Regions from separate parts of the Homo sapiens genome. Here region 1 is linked to region 2. Evidence: fine-mapped expression QTL. A gene starts in region 2. The other region holds a variant in brackets. All regions are shown on one strand. Distances are from middle to middle.

What was found.
Region 1: its variant is fine-mapped to the expression of PKP1 in skeletal muscle (GTEx, PIP above 0.99). The same link has a PIP of 0.9 or more in visceral fat.

Annotation. Positions count from the first base shown.
Region 1 is chr1:201,330,646-201,339,880 of GRCh38, forward strand. PKP1 (plakophilin 1) reads left to right here. Exons shown (of 14, transcript NM_001005337.3): 14 at 1-2,344. Among named protein-coding and RNA genes, the nearest start is that of TNNT2, 42 kb to the right of the region's middle. The variant A/T (reference allele first, on the strand shown) is at 3,940.
Region 2 is chr1:201,279,785-201,289,057 of GRCh38, forward strand. PKP1 (plakophilin 1) reads left to right here and starts at 3,722. Exons shown (of 14, transcript NM_001005337.3): 1 at 3,722-4,120. The coding sequence starts at 3,919. RefSeq lists an enhancer at 3,563-4,092.

The DNA of each region.
Region 1 (9,235 bases), 51 kb after region 2:
CCAGCCTCCCCACTTACAAGGCTGCTTTCCAGGAAGGGAGGTCTGGTGTATCTCATGGGAGAATCTGGGGTGTCTGTAATGTCACCCCTCCAGCAGCGCCACAAGGACTGAGGTTGGGTAGGTGTGGGGTTCCAGAGGACAGCAGGACACTCTCGCATACTTTGCCAAATGAGGCCTGCTCAGAGGAGTAGGAGCTGAAAGATGGTGCCTTCCACCCTCTTGGGCTGTGTGCCCATCAGAGCAGGCTCAGCCTGCAAAGGCCCTGCATTCAGAGGTCTTGTAATCTACTTGTTGCAGGAGAAAGAAGGTAAAAAATGATTTTTTTAAGAAAAGCTATTTTATTGCAGCTCTTTCCCAAGAGCTGTTCTGGGAATGGCTGGTCTTCATATTCCCAGTGGAGAGGGGAACAAGTGGGGCTGGGCATATACCTATTCCGGCTTCTAGTGGGATGGAGTTGGGGTATAGAAATTAACCAGGAAGATGTTTCCACCAAGCCTGCTGTGAGTCAATTGAGGGAGTGTTTGGGGTCCCAGGAGACTTGGACGGGGGGAGTTTGGGTAGACTAGGAAAGGAAAGTGCCATATCAGGGTACCGGTACCGGCAAGCTCACATCTCAGCCAGGGGCCATGCCCCACTTCCCCTGACCCCAGCTGTCTTGTCTCCACTCTGTGAAACCCACAGGGGATGTGATAAACAGGGCTATTAGGGGTATCAGCCACGTCGAGCCCCCAGACTCTGTGCACTTCAGACCAGCAGCAGCAGGAGGGCTCCCGAGGGCCTTATGAGAAAACCTGTGTGGACATCCCTTGGTGTACACTAAGACAGAGCAGAGCCCAGCGCTCCCAAGCCTTCCTCCTTCCAGCTTCTACCTCCATGCTAGCATTGCTGGTGTTAGAGAGGAATTAACTTCCTGGTCTGTGCCCTTCTCTAGAAGAATATAAGATGCTCCTCCTCCTCACCCCTTCTCAGCCTCCTCCCAAGTCTTCCTCTTCTGCACCACCCCCGAGTCCAAACCCACCTCTTGCCCCAGCATTCAGGCTGGAAAACACTGATGTGGACTCAGTATGATAACTGAGATGGGGGACGCCAGACATGTGAGGACGCTGTCCTCCGAGAGGTGTCCCCGGCTGTTAGCCAGCTGTGCTGTGGTGCTGTGGGTCTGTCATACCCTCCCTTGCTTCTGTTCACACTGGGAGGCCCACTCCTGGCTCACCTCTCCCTCTCAGGGACCCACGTGGGAGCCTGGATCCCTGGACTGTCCTGGGCATAGGTTTCAGGGGCCTCCTTTGTTGTCATCAGAACCCAGAGGAATTCTTCTCCTAAAAAATACGTATGGCATACCAATCTGTGCGGGGCAGTGTCCTAAGCACTTAGACTACATCAGGGAAGAACACAGACCACATCCCTGTCCTCATGCGGCTTATGTTTTCTGGAGGAAAGTGGAGACACAAGTCCTTGGCTTTAGGGCTCCCCCGGCTGGGGGCTGTGCAGTCCGGTCAGGGCGGGAGGGGAAATGCACCGCTGCATGTGAACCTTACCAGCCCAGGCGGATGCCCCTTCCCCTTAGCACTACCCTGGCCTCCTGCATCCCCTCGCCTCATGTTCCTCCCACCTTCAAAGAATGAAGAGCCCCATGGGCCCAGCCCCTGCCCTGGGAACCAGGCAGCCTTCCAGACCTCAGGGGCTGAGGCAGACTATTAGGGCAGGGCTGACTTTGGTGACACTGCCCATTCCCTCTCAGGCCAGCTCAGGTCACCCGGGCCTCTGACCCAGGCCTGTCACTTTGAGAGGGGCAAAACTGAGAGGGGCTTTTCCTAGAGAAAGAGAACAAGGAGCTTGCCAGGCTTCATGTAGCCGACACACGTCTCAGGATTTTAAGTCCACATTGGCCTCACACTACCAGGGCCAATGCCCAAAATAAGGAGTTCCAATTTGGGGCCAAATGAGGAAGGACACAGACTCTGCCCTGGGATCTCCTGTGCTAGCGGCCAATGACAAATCCAGTCATTGGCCACCAGCCACCTCTGCAGTGGGGACCACACTAGCAGCCCTGACTCCACACTCCTCCTGGGGACCCAAGAGGCAGTGTTGCTGTCTGCATGTCCACCTTGGAATCTGGCTGAACTGGCTGGCAGGACCAAGACTGCGGCTGGGGTGGGCAGGGAAGGGAAGCCGGGGGCTGCTGTGAGGGATCTTGGAGCTTCCCTGTAGCCCACCTTCCCCTTGCTTCATGTTTGTAGAGGAACCTTGTGCCGGCCAGGCCCAGTTTCCTTGTGTGATACACTAATGTATTTGCTTTTTTTGGAAATAGAGAAAATCAATAAATTGCTAGTGTTTCTTTGAACTTTTTCGAGGAGTGGATTCTTTGGGGTGCTGTTGAGGGATGAAGGGGCTACTCATTTCCTTCCATGATCTCCTCTTACCCTGTACCAGGCAAGGACTGAGAATGCCACCCGGGGGCACAGGGACAGCGCTATCCATGGACACCTGCTCTACAGCAGCACATCGAGCCTCACCGCAGCTCCATGACACTAGGATTGCTGTCCTGATTTTTAAAATAAGTAAAGCGAGACTTAGGGAAGGAACAAATACCCCCAGGGTCACACAGCTTGTAAATGTCCCCAAGCCTGAACCCATCCAGGTGGGGCATCTGTAGGAAAGAGAAATTCAAAGATGAAGGTCAAGGAGTTGGTGTTTATTTAGTTTTATTTATTTACTTTTTGAGACAGGGGTTTTGCTCTGTTGCCCAGGCTGGAGTACAGGGATGAGATCATGGCTCAAAGAGGGCTCAACCTCCCAGGCTCAAGCAATCCTCCCAGCTAAGGCTCCCAACTATGGGTCTCACTATGTTGCCCAGGCTGGTCTCGAACTCCTGGATTCAAGTGATCCTTCTGCCTTCGCCTCTCAAAGCACTGGGATTACAGGCATAAGCCACTGTGCCCAGCTGGAGCTGATGTTTATTGAATGCCTATTCTACCTGGGTTCTGTATTGGTGCTGGAGGGTCACAAAAACAAAGGATGTGATGGGCCCCAGCCTCAGAAGTCTCATAAGGGACAAGACAAACATAAGCAAACGAGGCATGTGTAGTAAATTCCAAGTAGTGCTGTGAACATAACCACCGTGGGCCATCAGTGCCAGTCAGGGCCACCTGGATGGGGAAGGTCAGGATGCTTGGGGAAGGGCTGAATGTGAGCTTTTCCCAATTTGAAAGAGTGGTGACTGGCAAGTCCTCTCTACTACAGCCCACGGCCCTGACCTCCTGGACCATCCCACAGTTTAGTAATGTCCAGAGAGGTCAGAGAGAAGGAGCTGTACCACAGACAAGAAGAAGATGGCCTATCTGTGGCCTGGACTGTTAAATACACGAGGCCTCGGACATCCAAAAAATGTTTTGAGACCTGAAAAATATGTATTGACTCCAAAATGTGAGATCAAGTTACAAATTTACAATCAACAGATGTTTAGATTGCTAAGCTTTCATTGGAATATAGCATGCATGCAGAAACATGTACAACTGAAAATGCATGCAGCCCAATGAAGCTTCACAAATGAATAGCACCCAGACCGAGAAACAGAACATTACCAGCACCCAAAACCCTGCTCAGACCCCTTCAGGTCACCATCCTCCTCCCCAGGGGTAACCACTGTCCTGACTTCTAACACCGTAGATTAATATTGCCTATTTTTGAACTTTATATAAAGGAAGTCAACAGTAAGTCCATTTTTATGTTTGGTTATTTTATCTCAACAATATGTTTGCAAGATTCATTCATTCCTATTCATGTTCCTACCACTGCCATATAATAATCTATGTGTAATTACGTTACAATGCAAAATGCAATATTACATCATCGCCATTGTTACATCTATTATTTATAAACAACTGGAAACAATTTGCGGATTAGTTGTCTCACTTCCTAAAAATTCCCACATGTGAT[A/T]TAATTACTGGGAAATTACAACTAACAGTAAAGAAGTTCGATTTTACGTGGGACGTGGGTGCACTTAATGTGTAGGAGTGCCAAAAAGCTACAGAAGTACTAATTCAACTGTCCCTGGCCAAGTGGGTGGCAGGCCCTCTGGCCCCTTCAGAGGACTGTCCAGTGAGAGCAAAAGGGTCCAGGAACAGATGGGCAAGACCAAACTGGGAGGCACCAGGAGCAGCTGGCAGCCTAAGCTGTGGAAAGGAGAAGGTCTCATGGTGCTGGAGGCTGAGTCTCCCAGACTCCATGTCAGGCTGCCTCCAGGTCTCTCTACCCTGAGCCCTGAAGCCATTTCCTCCTGTTGCCTTTGGAAGTATTCTGGCCTGGAACCCGATTCTCTCCACGAGAGATAAAGCATTCATTGTGCATCATTTTTGGAATGCAGTGCGTTCCGTTGTCCAACACAGTTGGAGAAAAGAGTGAACAGAAGTCGTTAATAATAACAATAGTCTTTTTTACTTGAGGGGGCCACACATTAACTCCTTTTGCTTTCAAAGCCTTAGGGTGTTGGTTTGCTGTTTTGATCTTTACTTCATTCTAGTGAGACAGGCAGAGCCCAGAGTATTACATTTCAATTTATAGATGAGGAAACAGACCCAAAGAGAGAAAGTGACTTGCGCAGAGTCACGTGGCAAGTTTGTGGCGGAACCAAGCCTGAGACTCAAGCCTCCTGTGTCCCAGCCCAAGTCTGCTCTGGTCAACTCGCATGAGGCTGCCCAGCTGTCAAAGTGTTAAAACTGTTCAGAGAGGCCTGACACAAAGGCGATACTGTGCATAACCAAATCTTTAATGAATCAGAAGCTCACAGCACCTCGAGGCATCATAAGATTACACATCTTATGAGCTGTGGTTGCTGTGCAGACATGCCAATAAACGAAGAGTTCTGATAGACGGAATATCAGATGCCAGAAACTACAGTGTGGATCATCTAGTCTGGGGCTGGTGGTTTGGTTGATTAGAATATGGAGGTAATGAGGCCAGGGCCACAGAGTGAAAAATACCTTAAGGACTCCTGCTGGTATCCTCCACCCTAACCCGTCATCCTGCACACCTCAGCAGGGTGTGAATGTCACCAAGTGACATGCCAGCCTCTCTGGGAAGCGTGTCAAAGCTGACAAGCCCCACTGATGGTGGATCAGCAGAGATATCCCATATACAGAAAGGATTTCAGGCTTCTGGCATTCCTAAGCCCTCTAGTTGGCCCATTAAGAAGTTTTATGGCTGCTGAATTAATTTTTAAAATTTCTAAAAAGCATTTCAGCATTTACCAAGCGGTTCTAAATCTCTGGGGTATAAATGTCACCCTCTGCACACAAGACCATTAAAATCCTGCTTTCTACACCTCTCTCTGAAAGGAAATGTCAACCAGGTCTCCAGGGCCAGTGGGGCCCATGCTGCACCCATGCGTGTTGTTCTGGATCCCTTTAGGCTCACCTGGCTGCATTCTGGGGCCCAGAGTTTTCCTGGAGGATAGCAGGGCTGTGGGGGACAACAGACAAGAACGACCACCTATTCTGTGACCCCCGTGGGGGTGGGCACTGACATGCATGAATGACCTTCTATCTCTATCCAGATGCTGCAAAGTAGGTGGGATCATTCCCATTTCACAGATAGGGAAACTATGGTTCAGAGGTGGAGCAACTTTTTCAAGGTCATACAGATAGTAGGTGATGGATTCGGATTTTGAAACAGGTCTGAGGCCAAGGTTGGTGCTCCTCTCCCTTCTCTATAGCTGCCATCTAGACAGCAGTTGCCAACAATTAGGTTGGCTCCAAAACTGCCCTCTAATGACTCCAACCTGTGACCATGGTGCCCCTCTGAGCCTTCTGTAACCAGTGTTCGAAAACAGAATAAGCACCTGTACCCCAGACATATACTCCTCATCTTTTCTTTTTAATTCAAGAAACGTCTGGGAAAAAAATTCTTGTCCTCTTCCAAAAGTTGAGAGGTCAAGGCAAAAATACCCTACACTCACCTCCTCCTCTGAATTGAGAAAGCCCTTTTCCAGACAGCCCATCTACCGTCCACTCTTGAATCTGAAAGGAGTCACTTCTTGCCCAATCTCTCTACTTCTTTTTCTTTTGCCAGCTCAGAGCTGGTCCTGCCTGGTCCCCTTGTCTGTCTGGTTTTGAGTACTCCTGGGGGCAGAGCCTTTATTCTTGGCCCCAACCAACCAGATCTCCTTGATGGCTGGACCACTGGCGGACTGCAGAGTGTGGGGCTGTAGCCACAGGTGCTGGGGGCTGGGAGACAGGCTGGCAGGGAACAGGCTGGCTTGGTGGCATGCTGGACCCACCATCCAGCATCTGGGATCTGCTGTCTGGAGCTGGCCTGCATCAGGGTCACAGACTGTCGGAGTGGAATGGCCAGGGAACACCCCTCAGCAGACGATATCCACCTATTTTCCAACCACAGAATCCTTCGGGTAAGCTACACTGGCATGGGGAGACAGAGGCAGCCCGGGTGGAAGAGACTTGGGGCAAGAGCTCCACCTGCCCACTCCCTTTCTGCCCAGGAGTGGGATCCTCAGAACCCCAGGCTCCGAGGAGCTGTGGAGAAATCGCTGGTCTAGCCCGACTCCCTCACTTTGCAGGTGAGAAACTGAGGCCTGGAGAAGGAAAGTAACTTGCAGGGGTCACAAAGCAGCACTAGGAGCAAGGCCAGGCCCCTTCTCCAACACCACCCTCTGCTCTTTCTTGCAAGTCCCCTTCCTCACTGGACTAACTGCACCTTTGGATGCTCCATAGGCCCTGCCAGAGCCCTGATGTAACACCCGGCACCTGGGTGGTTGGTACAGCCACTTTCTGCACTGGACTGTGAACTCCCTGAGGGCAGGGACCCAAGCAGTCTCTGGCACAGGGAAGGAACTGGATATTTATTCTTTTAGGTGAACAAGGAAGGAAGGGAGGGAAAGGGGAACTGGCAAATAAAAGAAGAAAAACATTTTCTTGTCTGGTATACAACCAACCAAAGAGAATGAGTAGGAACAGCCAGTGACGTGAAAGGCCAATCAGGAGAGTGTGGCATCTGGAAGACAAGGGAAGAAAGTGTGCCTAGATGGAGGGAGGGCCCAGCTGTGTGGGATGGTGCTGATGAGCACACAGGATGAAGAAACATGGGACTCTCTAAACACAGGGGGAGTTCACACACACACACACACACACACACACACACACACACACACACTGATAGAGCCCTACACACACACACAACCACAAGGCTGCTGGAGGGATCTGACAGCACCTGGCACTGTGGGCACAGAGCAGAGGCTTGGTAAGGACCAGCATCCCTATATGATGAGTAGGGCTCTTCTTGAAGCCTTAGCTTTGGTGACCAGGACTCCGCAGGGGAGAGATTGAGGCCAAGTATTCCCACCTCCTAAAAAGAGTCTAGATTAATTGGGGCCACATATCTTTGATTAAAGATCCAAGGGCTTTTGAACGATGAGACTAGGCCAGGCATAGTGGTTTATGTCTAATCCCAGCACTTTGAGAGGCTGAGGTGGGTGGATCACCTGAGGTAGGAAGTTCGAGACCAGCCTGACCAACATGGAGAAACCTCGTCTCTACTAAAAATACAAAATTAGCCGGGCGTGGAGGGGCATGCCTGTAATCCCAGCTACTCGAGAGGCTGAGGCAAGATAATCGCTTGAACCCGGAAGGCGGAGATTGCAGTGAGCCGAGATTGCACCCTTGCACTCCAGCCTGGGCAACAAGAGCGAAACTCTTGTCTCAAAAAGAAAAAAAAAGACCCAAGGGCTTTTGAATGATGAGACTAGGCCAGGCATGGTGGTTCACATCTGATCCTAGCATTTTGGGAGGCCAAGGCGGGAAGTTGCTTGAGCCCAGGAGTTCAAGACCAGCCTGGGCAACATAATGAGATCCCATCTCCAAATAAAAAAAACAAAACAAAACAAAACACCATGAGACTGGATGAGATGACCAACGTCATGGGGATAGATAGAATAGAGAAGAGCTTCAAAGGCGGTGGACAACCAACCAAAGAGAATGAGGAGGAACAGCCAGTGACGTGAAAGGCCAATCAGGAGAGTGTGGCATCTGGAAGCCAAGGGAAGAAAGTGTGCCTAGATGGAGGGAGGGCCCGGCTGTGTGGGATAGTGCTGATGAGCACACAGGATGAAGGCAGAGCTGACAACTGGATTCACGATTCTTTTATTTCCTCCTCTTTCCTTTCTGCTCCTTTAGGTAAAATTTAGATACAGTGAAATGCACAAATCTTAAGTGTACCATTCAATAGATTTTGACAAATGCAGACGTCTGTGCAACCCAAAGTTCTATCAAAATATAGAACATGTCATCACCTCAGAAAGTCCCCTCATGCATTTTCCCAGTCAACAATCCCCCTTCCCACTAAGAGGCCACCACTGTTCTGCTTTTTTCATGACAGATTAATTTTGCCAGATTTTAAAAAAATGTAATATTTGGGAGACCGAGGCGGGTGGATCACGAGGTCAGGAGATTGAGACCACCCTGGCCAACACGGCGAAACCCCATCTCTACTTAAATACAAAAAATTAGCCGGGCATGGTGGTGTGTGCCTGTAGTCCCAGCTACTCGGGAGGGTGAGGCAGGGGAATCGCTTGAACCCAGGAGGTGGAGGTTGCAGTGAGCCAAGATCGCACCACTGCACTCCAGCCTGACAACAGAATGAGACTCCGTCTCAAAACAACAACAACAAAAAGTAATGTCTGGGTTGGACACAGTGGCTCACACCTGTAATCCCAGCACTTTGGGAGGCCAAGGCAGGTGGATCACCTGAGGTCAGGAGTTCGAGAACAGCCTGGCCAACATGGTGAAACCCTGTCTCTACCAAAAAAAAAAAAAATTAGCCAGGCGTGGTGGTACACACCTGTAGTCCCAACTGCTGAGGAGGCTGAGGCAGGAGAATCGCTTGAACCTGGGAGGCGGAGGTTGCAGCGAGCCGAGATTGCCCCACTGCACTCCACTGCCCCAGCCGGGGCAACAAGAGCAAAACTCCGTCTCAAAAAAAAAAAAAAAAAAAAAAAAAAAGTAACGTCTGCAGGATCTATAGTGTATGCCCTGTTTTATTTCCAATGTTGGTAATTTGTGTTCTCTCTCTCTCTCCTTCTCTCTCTCTCACACACACACAAACACTTTTTCTTGAATAGCATAGCTAGGAGTTTATTTTTTCAGAAAACCAACTTTTGGCTTTGTTAATTTTCTCTATTTTTTTTTTCGTTTCATCAGTTTCTGCTCTTTATGATTTTCTTTCT
Region 2 (9,273 bases):
TCTCCTTCTCTCCTGTAGAAAATAAGCTCTAGGCCAGGCACAGTGGCTCATGCCTGTAATTCCATCACTCTGGGAGGCCGAGGTGGGTGGATCACTTGAGTTCAAGAGTTTGAGAACAGCCTGACCAACATGGTGAAAGCCTGTCTCTACTGAAAATACAAAAATCAGCCTGGCATGGTGGTGCGCACCTGTAATCCCAGCTACTCAGGAGGCTGAGGCAGGAGAATTGCTTGAACCCGGGAGGCAGAGGTTACAGTGAGTCAAGACACACCACTGCACAGAGTGAGAGTGACAGAGTGTAAATTCTGTAAGAGCAGGAACTTTGTCTTCCTCACCATTGTATCCTTAGTACCTGGGACAAGGTCTGTCACATAGCAGATGCTCAGTCAATACTTGTTGAGTAAATGAACTCATATTTCACTTTTTAATGAACATAGAGATGACAGGATGTGAAGTCTGGGAGCCAGAATGTTGAAAGGGAAATCTGGGTCACACTTAATGCTCTAAGGAGGCAGCAAAGAGAATTAGAAGCCCGTTCATACTCATTCCTTTGAGGATGAAAATATACTCATCTTATTTCAGAATCAAGTCAAAATTAACTTCTTTCAGGATGCTTCCCCCTGATCACCCCCAACACCTTCCAAGCCAAAATTAACCCATATCCATTAGAATTTTAACATCTAAATATATGTTCTGACAGTCACCTGAAAGCATGCCATTTCAGAGCCAGGATCATGTGACTGTGCCTCCTTGACATCTTTTCTTCACTTTAGGAGTGTTAGCCTCCTTGCTGGTTGATTTCTGAGACAGGCCCCACATAGGGTGGGGCTCAGGCAGGCAGAAGAGAGAGAGAGATTATGGAAATAGCATTGGCCTGCTGGCTCAAAACCATATACCTGAGCCCCAAACCAATCCTCCCAGCCTGAGTATATCTCCCTCACCGTGGCCCAGAATGTGTAACCTGACTTCTCTTTCCTCTCCTCCTCTGTCAGAAGGGCCTGATTCAAGATGTCCTGCCCTACAAATCCCCACAATCGACAGAATTATAGAATGTTGGGGCTAGAGTGGAGTTTAGGAGCCACGAAGTTTACCCGCTCTCTTTGTAGATTGGTGCAAGGGACGGAGGAAGGCACTTGTCTAACATGAAGCTAGTTAGTGACACAACTAGATCAGGAACCCAGCTGGCCTGACTTTCGTGCCCTGTGATGGGAATGGATGCTGTTAAAATACCTATCCAGAGAAGGATCTGCTTGTCACAGAGAAATCTCGAGGCGGCAGCCTGGCACTGCCACTGAGTGTCCAGCTCTGGATTGCAGTTGCCTTGTCTGCCTGTTGCCAGCTGGGTGGCCTCATGGAACTTCAGTTACCTCATCTGAAAAAGAAGGGTGATGGTGCCCACCTCATAGGGTCATTGTAAGGATTTAAATGATGTGGTTCGTGTACAGGGCTCAGAACAATGCCTGGTTGGTAGGCATGGTGTTTGGAGGAGCATAGTAAATGCTATTGCTATCAATATGTCAAAATAATGTCAATATTAACATAGTAGAGAAGTAGCTAGAAAAACTGAACTTCATACCTGGAAACAATTTTAAAGATAATCAGTTCTGCTTCCACGGACTTGCCTTTTATAGGAAGATGAGCTACTCTAATCCCCTCCTTCAGGGCCCTTCTATATCCTAGAATAGGAAAATTATCGTTATTTAAAGATGTAATTAACATTTATTATGGCTAGCATATTAGGTTTTAGATAGGCCAAATGTGTGATACAATAGAATTGTATTTTTATATGCTGCTGTGTATACTTTACAGTACATTGGGGCCCTTATATAATCGGTGTGCACTGTACTTTAATGTCCATTTTATAGGACTTTTATAAGGGAAGCTGGATGATGTGGTGGAATGAGCACTGTGCCAGGAGTCACAAGGCCTGGTTAGGATGCAGGCTTTGCCACATATTAACTGGGGCATTGCAAGCAAGCTACCTCCTCTCCTAATCAGTGAAATGCAGTGCTTGGCTGGATGAAGTCCAAGGCTCTGTCCAGTCCTGGCGGTCTATGGCTAGAGGCAGAATCTTACAATATGAAGTGATAATAGAGGTTTACAGGTATTTTGTACACATCTATGACATATTTTTTATCACATCTCTGGTTTACTTGAGGTTAAGTTCTTAGGAACAGCGCCCTCAATAATAAAACTGTTTCTATTGGAAACTATAATCTGCTTTACAATAATCTGCTCTGCAAATTGCTACTAGGAATACCTTCCTTGGGAAAGCTGGGGCTCCCCGCATGTAACACCCACATCTCAGGAGTTGCGTGAGTGACCTTCATGTACATGGTCCCTGAGACAGTCATTCAGTCTTCTTGATCCTTCCTCGACATAAAATTCCCAAAAAGAATAGATTTCTGATTGTCCTTTCCTCTGTAGATTAGAAGAGCAAACTAAAAGTAAAATATGTGAGCTGTGAGCGGCAGCCTCAAATGACAGCAAGAGTGACGGCTGTGATAGTGTCACACACTGGTGGAGGCCCCAAAACTAAGAAACTGACCGGACAGCACGACTACACAGTTCAGTAATGGATGTCCAGAATGAGAAACCCAGGGCATCAAGAAGTACAGCAAATATGTTCAGTGTTGTTTGCTTTAGGAGGCAAACAGAATGCGATACCTTTTAGAAAGATTTCCATCAAAGTAAATACTTAAAAAAAAAAAAAAACACTCAGCTCCTGTTACACACCAAATTCACTGATGTGGGCTCCCTCCACGCCTGGAGAGGATGCTACATGAATAAAGCTTCACTGCACATGTGTCCCCAGGGGTGAGTGTATATAGGGGAATGCACACAGTGGTCCCAGAATAATAAGTCCAGAGTGAAATTTCAGGGTAAAGCAGCTTTTCAATTTTTCAGTGAGGATCTGGTTAGGATCCGAGTTAGATTTAATTTACCTTAAATTAACTAGCATTCACGTATTCACCTATTTAAAATATTTTTTATTAAGCGCCTAATATTATGTGTGCCAGGCATTGTTTTAGAGGTTATAGTGGAGTTTCAGAGAGGATCCGCTGTTCACGTGGTGTTTTACCGGGGTATACTCATGAACAACAAATAACCACCGGTTTTACCAAGGCATACCCACTGTGTGGTCTGATATCCCAAGTCTGCTCCTTGATGTGGCCTTACTGCCCCTACCCCACTTTCTTCAGAGGAAGCTCCTTTAGAGTAGACTGGGTTACCCCCATAAGATGGAGCACTCCTTTGGAGCAAGAGCTATGGTTCTGCCATCAGCCCGGGAGCCTCCACCGCCGGGGTTGGTCTCTGCTATGACCTCAGTACAGAGGGAGATGGACGCCTGGCTCTCCTGGGCAGCCTGGTCAAGAAAGACTCCTTTCTTTCCTAGAGAGAGGTCTCCCTCGGTTCCTGAGCTGAGCACATGCTTTCTCAGTGAGCCGGCAGAACAGGACAGAGGGGCGTCTCCCTGGGGCCTCAAGGCTTGCGACGTTTCTTGCTCATGGGGAGAGGGAAGGGAGAGAAAAAAAAGAGCGAGCAGGAAGGCGCCCAGCGTCCCACACAGGGGACTCGCAGCCCTGCCCCCAAGAGCGCTGGCTCCGCAGCAGCAGTGCCCTGCAGCTCCGCGTCTGAGCAGCAGCAGCGCGCGGCCCGGTGGAGTGGGTGGTGCAGGGCAGGGGTGGTATATCCTGTCTGACGGAGGGCGGGCCTCGCCAGTGCCAGAGAGGGACGAACCAGGGTGGAAGCGCCAGGAGCAGCTGCAGGGAGCCCTCACGCGGACCACGCACTCTATGGCCGTAGGGAGCCGCTGAGAGCGAGAAGAGCACGCTCCTGCCCGCCCGCTGCACCGCACCTCGCCTCGCCTCTCTGCTCTCCTAGGCCCCGGCCGCGCGCCACCCGCCTCCCGCCACCATGAACCACTCGCCGCTCAAGACCGCCTTGGCGTACGAATGCTTCCAGGACCAGGACAACTCCACGTTGGCTTTGCCGTCGGACCAAAAGATGAAAACAGGCACGTCTGGCAGGCAGCGCGTGCAGGAGCAGGTGATGATGACCGTCAAGCGGCAGAAGTCCAAGTCTTCCCAGTCGTCCACCCTGAGCCACTCCAATCGAGGTAAAGGCTCGGCCCCCGCGTGGTCCGTGCGCCCCTTTCCAGAGCACCCTGGCCCAGTGGCGGGGACCAAGAGACGCACGCATCCCCGGGGATGAGGGGAGGCGAGGGGCTGCCGGCCCCAGGCAGGGTCTACGCACCTAGTGCGAGCAGCCGAGCTCCCAGCCGGTTCTGAGCTGGTGTAAACGCGACCCGAGGCTGGCTCGACGGCCCCGCGAGCTCGATGGCGCGCTAGTGGGCAAGGATGGGTGATTCACCGGGACACAGCCAGGAGCATGTCCCAGCGTGCCAGGAGGTTGAGGATCCCCCGCGAGCGGTTCTCCTGTCCCTGAGCCCTGGGTCTGGACGGCTTTCTCTTTCGGATGCTGCTCTAGGGATCTGCCCTGCATCCTGTCTGGCCCCGGCTGTCCTGGGGCCCATGGTCCCCGCGCTCGCAAACGGTTGTGGGCCACCCTTCACCCTTCCTGGGCTTGATCTCCTGGCCTTCAGCTGGAGGCCGATGCCCAGCGTCCAGGCCAAGGGGAACCCCAGTCCCTGTGGGGCCGCGCATGAGTATCCGCGAGCGGGGTGAGGGAGTCGCTGAGACAGGAGTGCAGCTCAGGAGAGGCGCTGCGGGACGGGAAAGTGGCACAGGGAGCAGGGACGAGGGCCTGGAACTCCAGGGCACTTTATCGAGAGCCTCCTGAAAGAGGCTAGCCTAGTTGGAAGGCCGCCCCAGGGCCAGTGGGTCCCTTGACGACAGGGAAGGGGGTCAGGGATGCTTTCTTTCCCGAATAGCCAATGCAGAAATCCTCTTTCCCACTGGATTCTTCTTACCCCACCCAGCTTAGGTAGAAACAAGTGTCTCATGGGGAGAGTACGGAATGGCAGGTTGGAAATCCCCCCGGGCCCCAGGGAGACCTCCAGCTGAACCCTCACGGGCACTTTTCCAAGCTGGATCCCGGGCCTGGCACCCCCTCCTCCAGCCTCTGAGAGGCCAGATCCCATGACTGGGGGAACCTGGGAGAAAGGGGCAGCACCCAGGAAACTCAAGGAGGAAGGGGCAGTACCTGACAGGGGAGAGCTTATAGACCAAGTAAACACTTTGATACAAAGGATGCCTGGTAAGAATTACACACAAGTGAGCAAAGATTCCACTTGTTTATTTATTTACTTATTTTATTTAGCTAAGTTTAGTAAAATGCTAATAAGACTTTACCCATTACCAAACAGTACAGGTCAACCAAGACTTATGTATTAAGACAGGCCTTAGGAGAGAGTGAGGGGCAGGGGGTAATAAGGTGGAAGGAGACAAAAGAAACCGACCCTGGCCCTTCCACCACACACACACACACACACACACACACACACACACACACACACACCTCACACTTCCTTCTACCTGTGGCTTCTGTCCCCCCACCTACTCCCTAGCCCCCATTCCTGAGTGGCCCCTTGTAGAGCCGAGGGAAGGAAAATGGCCGGCAGAGGACTTCCTGGGCCCCAGACCTAAAGGCCTTTGCTTCTCTGTGTGCTCTTTGCCTTTGTGTGGGCTCCAGGCTCCTCTCGTCACATTTCCACTCAAGATCATGCCACCTCCAGAGCACTTGCCTCCTTCCCTTTTATTTGGTGCCTTGGTAGGTGCCTCCTAGCCTCTTTAGAATTAGGTTTGGAATAACAAAGTGCCCCCATTTCTGGCTACAGCCCAGAGCACAGCTCAACCTACTCTCCTCTCTGCACAAGACTTGGCTGTCCCCTTCCCACTCCCACTCCATCCCAGCCTGAGCTCTTGGCTCACAACTCCAGAAAACTCAAACCGGCCCTGGGTGCCCCAAGGACCCCTTTTTCCTCCTACCTATCGGGATATTGGCTGAGTGTCTGTCAGCAAGAAGTGCACTTTCTGGGCTTGGTCTTTGTGGGGAACTTCTATCTGATAAGGTCTCCTTTGTTCCCTCTTTGTTTTTCCTCCCAAGGTCCCCCAGGGGGCTTCACTGGGGGAGGGTTGATGCTGATGGCTACCTCTCCAGAAACTCCAAGGTCTAGCCCTGTGGGCGTGTCCCCTCTACCCTCAGACTCTGCGGAGGTTCCTAAAGGAGGCTGCAGAGGCATCCTTGCTGGAAGAGGCGGTTTGGTCACTTGGAGCTGGTGTTTCTGGTTTATCTGGCTTAGTTTTCATCAGATTTCCTTGTCTTCTCCATCAGAAACACCCAAACGTCCCCTATTTGCTCTGCGGCCACCTCTACTCACTCTGCTCCCTCTTTCTTATGCTGGTTTACCTGTCAGGAGCCTGCTTTGGTTCCTGGAATGGAATGAGCTGGTAGCTGTGGAAGGACCATGCCCCAGGCGTTTTCCCTCGCCCCCTGGACAGATTCAGGTTCTTGTTTAGTCTCTTCCAAGAGCAGAGTCAGTTTACCTAGGGTCTTCTTGAGCCCCTTGAATCCCATCCAAAGTTTCCCTAGTTAAGAAGGGCCAACCATACCCCACAGGTTGCCTGGAAGAGTAGCCACTGCTCCTTGTACCCCAGGAAGGACAGTCAGGACCAGCCATCCTTGGTCCTGTGATAGAAGTGGCTTCTCAGTTCCTCTCCACTAGTGCTCTTTTCTCTCTTGTCACTGAGGGAGTATTGAGCCACTGAGGACTGGAGGAAGGGCCCCTGGAGCCTGTCACAAAATGCCTGTCTGCACTCATGCTCTCCCTGAAATGCCACAGATCAGACAAGCACCTTGCCCTGGTCATGAAGGCCCCGGGCAGGAAGAAGGTGGCTTCTGTGGCCTGGAGACCTTGCAGAAGGAGGTTGCTCTGAACCTGCCTACCCATCTTGAACTGCCCCTGAAGTATTGCTCCCCTGTGTTTTCAGGCTGTCCCTGTGTGCCTCAGGGTGTCTGGCCTCCTTTTCTTCCCAGACTGTGTGGAAGGCAAGGGGAAACTGAGGGGGATGTCACCACCCAGCAAAAGATCTTTGCCAGGGAAATGACCTCCCTGAGGATGGGGAAGGAAACACTTATCCACCTTCCAGATCTTTATAACTTCACTTGGAATCTCTTCCTAAAGCTGAACCTGAATCTCACTTGCCCTAACCCAAGCGCTCCCCCGCCACTGTGAATACAGATCACACCCAGCTCAGTGAAAGGAGCTTCCTTTCACCTGTCCTGTCTCCTTCCAGGGAAGTCCTAACAACACCAGCACCATTGCCTGCTTTGTCTCACTGCCTGCTTAGCCATCTGTGATTTTTTATTTCAGCCTTTGGCCTGAAATTCTCTTTCTCCCTTCTTCATAGAAGTACTGTTTCCCATCTAAAATTGCTAAGCCTCTATTTCTCTCTGATCAGAGGTAGGGGCTGGAGGCAACATTGAGCCAGGGGAGGTGCCTGCTCCCTTTCTGTAGTTCCTGTGTCTATTCAGCCCTCATCAGGGGAGAGGGGGGCATGCTTGTACGAACTCCGCAGCCTGCACAGTGAAGGAGCTCGCCTCAGGAGCCCCCACTTTGATGGCTTTTTGTATTTGTGTTTGACTATGTCTCAGCATGAGCTTCTGCCCGAGTGTTCTGCTCATTAGAGTTTCTAGAAAGTTGTCCTTTCCTGACCACAGGCATCACTTCTGGGGTTGTTTTCTTGGGACCGAAGCTGAGATTGCAGATGGTAATGGCTATGTGTGCTTTAGCTTGTTCCATTGGCGAAACATACCAATTAAACTTCAAATGAACCAATTCTTGTTTCTTTACAATGTACCTTGGCTTGAAGTTGGAGTTTTAGCCAGAATTTCCGTTGGCCTGTTACAACACATGCAAAAATGCTGGGTATTCTAGGGTGTTTTGCAGCAAATGCTGCTTCTCTGGATCCTGCTCCTTGACAGAGATTTTTTAAAAGTACAAATTCCTCCCCCGACCCCATACCATTGTAAGTATCATTGTGCCAATTGTTCTAGGTTTAGAAATCTGGGAAGCGCTTCTGCGATGGGCCGTGACCCTTACAAGATGTGTAATGTTTGAACAAAATAAAATGGACGAATGTTAGATATCTTCATGTGAAGTTCCTTCTAGGCATACGCTGGACACATGCGCACACATGTATACACACATAGGTCACACATGCATATATGCATGTATACACAATACACCCCACACATGAATCCACACACCCACACATGCACACACGTACACACACATAACATGCACACACTTATGTTATGTGTGTGTACATGTGTGTCCTTGCAGCTGTGCTGTGTCAGGAGCCCAGCCTGGCATCTACCTGGTGTGCGATCTTGGACAAGTCGCTGCCTCTCTTTGGGTCTCTGCAGCTGTCAGAGGTTGGATTAGATCATCTCCAAAGTGCTTTGCAATGGGAACACTCTTTGGAAATAGATTTTATAACTCTCTAGCTCTGCAAACCATTTGCCCAGACCGCCAGCAGCTGTTCTGCCAAAAAGCTCTTCCCCTTAAGGCATGCCACTCATCGTGTCTCTCTCGTAAACATCCTAACATATTAAAAAGTCTTCTCATCCACTCTTCTCAAACTTGGCTACATATTGGAATCACCTGGAAATTTCAAACAACACAAATGCGTGAGTCCCACCCCCAGAGATTCTGACTTAGTGAGTATGAAAGATGGCACGGGCATCAGGACTTCAGAAACTCCCAGGTGATTCTCATGTGTAGCCAAGTTGGAGAACCACTGTTCTAGTCCCTGTCCTTCACTCACACAGATCCAGCATGGGGGAGCACCCCTATACAATGACATACACCCATGTCTTTCTCTCATACACACACACACACGCACACTTAATGTAGTAGTTGCTGGCGAGAGCCTTTGACTCTGAACCCCACCTGAACCCGTCAACCCTTGCCCACTCTAACCCACCACCCTGCCCCCTCACGCCCATCCTGTCCCCACAGGATGCTCCCATGCTCTGCCCAGTCCTCAGGCTTGGTGGTGGCCATGAACAGATCTGCTGAAAGAGCAGCAGGATTGTGGCAGAGCTAGGTCTGAACGCGTCCCAGCAGAGCCTGAGGGAGTCACATGGGCTGGAGAGGGAGAAGAGAGAACACAGGCCACAGCAACCCAGTTTGTTTCAGCATTTCTGTTCAGTACGTACACCCAGGAAAAGGTCAAGAGCCACACCAAAGTGCCCGGTGAGGCTGTGCTGAACTCCTTGCCCTCCCCATCTCCTAGAAGCTGCCGA